Regions from separate parts of the Homo sapiens genome. Here region 2 is linked to region 1. The links come from fine-mapping of genetic effects on gene expression. A gene starts in region 1. The other region holds a variant in brackets. All regions are shown on one strand. Distances are from middle to middle.

Region 1 (2,898 bases):
AGAAAAACCGGATATGCTTAGAACAAGATAAACATAATTTGAAGATAGAAAAGGGGGGGATGTCTTCTTGCCCTAGAAACGAGGTAATCACAAGCTGGGAGTGGAAACAGTAGCCGCAGCGTCCTCCCAGCATCTGGAAAGTCGCCCGCTCGTAAGAGGGGTCGGCGCTACCCGAGGGAGGCCGCAGGCCTACTGGGGTTTCCTGCTGGGGGTCGCACCCGGACCCGCGGCCGGGACGGCTCTGCACCTTCGCGGCACCCCGTGTGCCACCCTGAATCAGGCCCCGGCAGCCGCTCCTACGAGCAGCAAAGGGTGGTTCTGGGTATTGTCGGCCCAGCGCTCACTCGCGGATGTATTTTCCTCCTGTGCCCTGCCTGACATCTCAATCGGACCAAAAACACCCCTCTCCCCAGCTACTTGCATCTGTCCCGCGACTGGTGCAGCTGCAGGCCGCCGCCCTGGGTGGCTCGCGGCAGGAGGGACTGAGCCCGGGGCAGCCCACAGGGGCAGGACCGCGTCGCTTACCCAGATGCCGCCGCGGCGGCAGGCCGACTCCTCCGTGCAGGAGGGGCGGGCTCCCAAGCCGCGCACTGCAAGCAGTGGCGCCGGCTCACGCACCCCTCGGCCGCCTCTCGCGCGGCTTCCCGCGCCGGCAGCCCGCGATGGCCCCACGTGACCGCGTGTCTGGTAGCAGGGGAAAGAGGGGCGCCAGGGCCGGGGTGTGCGTGCGTGCGTGCGTGCGTACGTGCGCGCCCTCCCGCCCGCCCGCCTCAGTGGCCGGGCGGGGGTCGGCCCGCGCTCTGAGTGCCGCCGCCACAGTTCGCAGTTGTGACTCTGTAGGCGGAAGCATAGGGACAAGCCTGAGCGTCACAGGCTCCCCACAAACAACCGCGTGACCCGGGGACTTTCCCCAGGGTGTGCAAAAGCACAGGCACCCCCTCAGTTCTGGGGTGAAGGTGGGGGTGGGGAAGGATGCGCCCGCGTGTTCGCTGGGGAAGGGATGAGGGCGCGGGGCCAGGGAGGCCGAGCCGCGGGAGCCTGGGTGGAGAGGCGGACTGGGCGAGGTGGGGCATGGCGGGGGAAGTGACTCAGGGCCAGAGGCAGCAGGCCCACGGAAGGTGGGGTCGGGGGGGCGCGGGGACTGGGCGACCCTGAACCGACGGGGCAGGGCGAGGTTGCCGGAGCACTCGAGGCGGACCGCGAGTGACGGCCCAGCTGCTGGGCCCAACGGGCAGGGGTCTGACATCTGGACGGAGTGGGAAAGCAGCCTCGCATCCTGCCCTGGGGAGTCGGGAGGAGCCCAGTTCCATCCAGCTGTGCAAACAGGAGGAGGAGGAGGTCCCAAGCCTACCCTTGAGAGGGGCAAGAGGGGTGGTCAAGCCGCCGCCGCCGCGACGGCCCCCGCGGTGCGGGTTGCGCCAGCCTCCTCGGAGCTCGACGCAGAAACTTGTTGCAACAAACAGGCGACCGCGGGTGCCCCTAGCAGCCAGCGGCAGAGTGGGTGGGCGGGCGAGAGGGAGGGGAAGGCTGGCGGACGCCGCAGCGAACTGGTGGGCAGACCCGGAGTCGCCGCGTAAGCGGGGCCGGCTCAGTGCGGTGCGGCAGGCGCGGCTGTGCGGCAGCGGAAGTCCTTTGTTGCAGCACAGTCCCTGGCAGAGCCAGAGCCTCTCCGCGCAGCCCAGCCCGAGCGCCGAGCGCCGCGCGCCGCCGCCACTGCAGCTCGCGGCCCCTTCGCCTTCGCCCGCCTTTCCCGCGGCTGATTTGCCTTAAACTCCCTAAAATCTCCGCAGCTCTGGTTCCTGTTGCGGCCGGTAAGTATTTGCCAGTTGTGGGGCTATTTGCGCAACTTTGGCCCAGGCCGGAGGGCGACGGGCCGCGGGCCTGGCGGAGTGCGGGGCCGGAGGGGCGCCGATCCGTGCGGGGAGCCGGAGCGCGGCGGACGCGCTGCGAGGACCCGGTGACGGGCGGCTGCCAGGCCGCCTGCTTGTTGCCGGCGCGTCAGGTCCCGGGCGTGCGGCCTCCCTGAGTCGGAGGCGAAGCCCCTACGGAGACTAGTTCCCAAATTAGTTACCTTCTTTTCTTTCTTTCTCTGCCTTTATTTTTTTCGAGGGGGGAGGGGAGGTGTAGACGGGAGGCGGGAGAACCCGGTTGATTGACGTGCCTAGAGCCCGCTTCTCTCAACTTACAGCTGCGGCTCGGCGGCGGGTGGGAGGGGAAGTGTCCCGGAGCCCGAGGCTGCAGACTTGGGCGCGCTCCGAGGGAGGAGGCGTAAGATCCGTGCAAATTCTTGTTACGCTGTTTCCCACCCCCTCTCGCCGGCACACACGCTTTTTGTTCAGTAAAAAGTGGAAGGTCTGAGTTTGGGAATTTTAAGTGGAAAAGATCTGTTTCTTGGGAAGGGAGTGCTTTCGCTTGCAGCGGTGGGCGCTTACTAGAAGTTCGGTAAATGTGTTGGATGCAGATCGGGAGTCGTTACTACTAAAGTATGTAGGCAGGGTCTGAGCTCAGCCACCCCACCCAGTCTCCCTTTCTACCTAAGCAACGCGTGTACATGATCTGAAGGGTTGACATGACATTTTCTAAATTGGGCGAATCAGGAAGAGGTTGATGAAAATCCTTGACGTTTTCTGGGGATAGGACATTTGTGTGTGATAACGTTCTTAAGTCGAATTTCAGTGTGGCAGTGCACGCAGATTCTTCATTGGTGTTAGTGTATTTCCATACGGTATGTATCAGTACAAGAAATAGTGTTCCCTTTGACACTCGAACCCAAGGAGTGGTCCGAGGCTTTTTGAGGCAACGTAGGATCAATGTCTCTGAAGCAGATTTGGTGAAGGATGCAGGTCTCATAATTTACAGAGCAATCACAGCCTTCTTTGAAACGGAGAAATTAGATTC
Region 2 (2,898 bases), 150 kb after region 1:
TTGGAGATAGGGTTAAACAAGTTAAAATGAGATCATTAGTGTGAACTCTAATTGACTATGACTGGTGTCCTTCTAAGAAGGGGAAATTGGCCGGGTGTGGTGGCTCACACCTATAATCCCAGCACTTTGGGAGGCTGAGGTGGGCGGATCACTTGAGGTCAGGAGTTCAAGACCAGACTGACCAATATGGTCAAACTCTCTCTTTAGTAAAAATACAAAAATTAGCTGGGCATGGTGGTGGGCACCTGTAATCCCAGCTACTCAGGAGGCTGAGGCAGGAGAATCACTTGAACCCGGGAGGCAGAGGTTGCAGTGAGCCCAGATTGTGCCATTGCACTCCAGCCTGGGCGACAAGAGTGAAACTTTGTATCAAAAAAAAAAAAGGGTAGGGTGGTGGGGGAATTTGCACACAGACATGTCCACAGGAGAACACCACGTGCAGATGGGAGTGATGTTGCCACACACCAAGGAACTAGAGCCAAGGAAGAGAGGCTTGGAACAGATCCCTCCCGAGCACCTTCCGAGTGAGTGAGCATGGCCCCGCTGGGACCTTGAGTGTGGACTTCCTGTCTCTAGAACTGTGAGACAGTAAATGTCTGTTGTAAGCCACCCAGTTTGTGGTACTTTGTTATTGCAGCCCTGGGCAGCTTGTGCAGCAACTCTCTCCCCTTATGTTGCTTTTGAGGCGATGACAGCGTTGTGTAGTTGAAACTCCTGCTCCTCCCACGGCACCGGATCTTCGAAGAACCACCTGGCCATCCACAAAGGATGGCTGACATCACCTCAGCCCCCTGGGGAGGATAGCAAGGCAGGTTCACAGAGAAAACCCCGTCAGGCATCCTAAAGGGACACTGGTGAAATGTCACAGCCCCTGTGTCATCGGGGGTGGTGGCAGCACAGGACTGATAGTTTGCGGTCAGCAGAGAAGATGTCCCTGGTCAGGAAAGAGCAATTCTCTGCTCACCTCAAAGGGACAAGGGATGAGGTGGGAAGGGGGAGGCTGCCACACCTGCGTTACGTGAACTGATAACACCTGGGCTCCAGAGCGCCCCGACCTAAAATGACCACAGCTGATTGAGAAAGCTGAGGACTGGGCTGGAGATTATGCATCTGCGCATGCTTTTTTAGTTCATTCTGTGGGAGCAACTTTTGGAGAATTGGAACAGATCGGGGGCGAATCAGGGGAAGGCAACTCTGAGGGGAACGTTCAGGGGAATTTAGAAGAAGGATGATAATGTAGGTGCAGAAGTCATTGCAGCCCGCCCCTTGAACTCGTCTCAGGAAGGTGTGCACTGGACGAGTCAAACAAGGTGCTGCACTTGAGCCTGAGTCTGGGTGCAGCAAGCTCCGCAGAGGCAGCGACTGTATCCTTGAATGGCTGGGATTGCTGGGGCCACTGCTGCCTAAGCAGGTCTGGAAA[T/C]GGGGGTACAGCAAAAAGCTGTTTTATTGGGGTGTGTGTGTGTTTTGAGACAGGATCTTGCTCTGTTGCCCAGGCTGGAGTGCAGTGCCATGATCATAGCTCACTGCAGCCTTGAACTCCTGGGCTCAGGTGATCCTCCTGCCTCAGCCTCCCAAGTAGCTGGGACTACAGTTGCACCACCACACCCAGCTAATTTTTTTATTTTTATTTTTATTTTTGTAGAGATAGGGGTCTCATTATGTTGCCCAGTCTGGTCTCCAACTCCTGGCCTCTGGTCTCCAACTCCTGGCCTCAAGCAATCCTCCCACCTTGGCCTCCGAAGTGTTGGAATTACAGGCATGAGCCACTGCTCCTAGCCTGAAAGCTGTTGTTTTTATCCACCAGCTTCTCCCCCTCCCTTGCTACCTACCCACATTTGAGGGTTAGTGCAGGCCTCCTTCCCTTGGGGAAGGTGATCCTGATGAGGCTGCCAATCACAGTTCCCTTTCTTCCCCCTCACTTCAGCCCAAGAGGCAGGCATGAGACCCAAGCCTAGCCAATCAGAGCTCTTTATTGGGAGTTACGTCTTCTAAAGCAAGAAGTCCTCTCCCTCCTTAGGATGGCCAAACTGACATGATATGAGCCTAGAGCTGCCTGTAGCCATGTTGAGCCTAGCCCAGTCACAAATTCTGGGTCACTAAAGGTTAGTGAGAATCCTGATGACAACATATAAATATTTTTATTCTGTCCCTGCCCAACCTGTGGACACATGTCTGAGACCTAAGGAGAGAGATGGCTGTGAGTAAAAAGTGAGATCTCAGTAAAATCTCTACAGACCTCCAGGGCAAGGGCAGTGCATTGGAGAGGAGAGAAGCATCTTGCTACCACTTCAACATAGAGCAGCTCCAGCTTTGGTCCAGTGAGTTCTGCAGGGTGAATAGCTGGAAAGTGGGCCATGGCCCATGGGAGACTTTGGTGCTTGGCAGGGGCACGAGTTCCAGTGGCAACACCATCTCCTGGCAGGAGATGGTGGTATCTTGAAAACCATAGGAAGTACTGGGTGAGAGAGCAAAACAGCACTCAGGGAGAACAGTCTTGTACACACACACACACACACACACATACACGTGAGACTGGTCCCTCTTCTCATGATTCACAAACATACTTCTTATTTTTCTATGGGGGTGGGATGTGTGGGATGGTTGATTAACAGAAGATTGCAGGTATAGGTCTGGCTTCAGCAGATAAGGCAAGAGCCAGTGAAATCTGAGTTTTGGGGTTTTGTATGAGACAGGGTCTCACTCTGTCACCCAGGCTGGAGTGCAGTGGTACACTCACTGCTCACTGCAGTCTTGACCTCTTGGGCTCAAGTCAGTCATCCTCCTGCCTCAGCCTCCTGAGTAGCTGGGATTACAAGTGTGTGCCACCACACCCAGTTAATTTTTAATTTTTTTTGTAGATCTGGGGTTTTGCTCTGTTGCCCAGGCTGATCTTGAACT

The links. PIP is the estimated chance that this variant, and not a neighbour inherited with it, causes the effect.
Region 2: its variant is the best candidate, but not a certain one, in a credible set for the expression of ZBTB1 in adrenal gland (GTEx, PIP 0.58).

What each region holds. Positions count from the first base shown.
Region 1 is chr14:64,503,136-64,506,033 of GRCh38, forward strand. ZBTB1 (zinc finger and BTB domain containing 1) reads left to right here and starts at 1,635. Exons shown (of 2, transcript NM_001123329.2): 1 at 1,635-1,811. It overlaps ZBTB25 (zinc finger and BTB domain containing 25), which reads right to left and starts at 703. Exons shown (of 3, transcript NM_006977.5): 1 at 526-703. RefSeq lists enhancers at 15-114, 885-974, 1,075-1,745 and silencers at 435-864, 1,465-1,724, 1,835-1,944.
Region 2 is chr14:64,649,039-64,651,936 of GRCh38, forward strand. No RefSeq gene overlaps it. Among named protein-coding and RNA genes, the nearest start is that of PLEKHG3, 54 kb to the right of the region's middle. The variant T/C (reference allele first, on the strand shown) is at 1,421.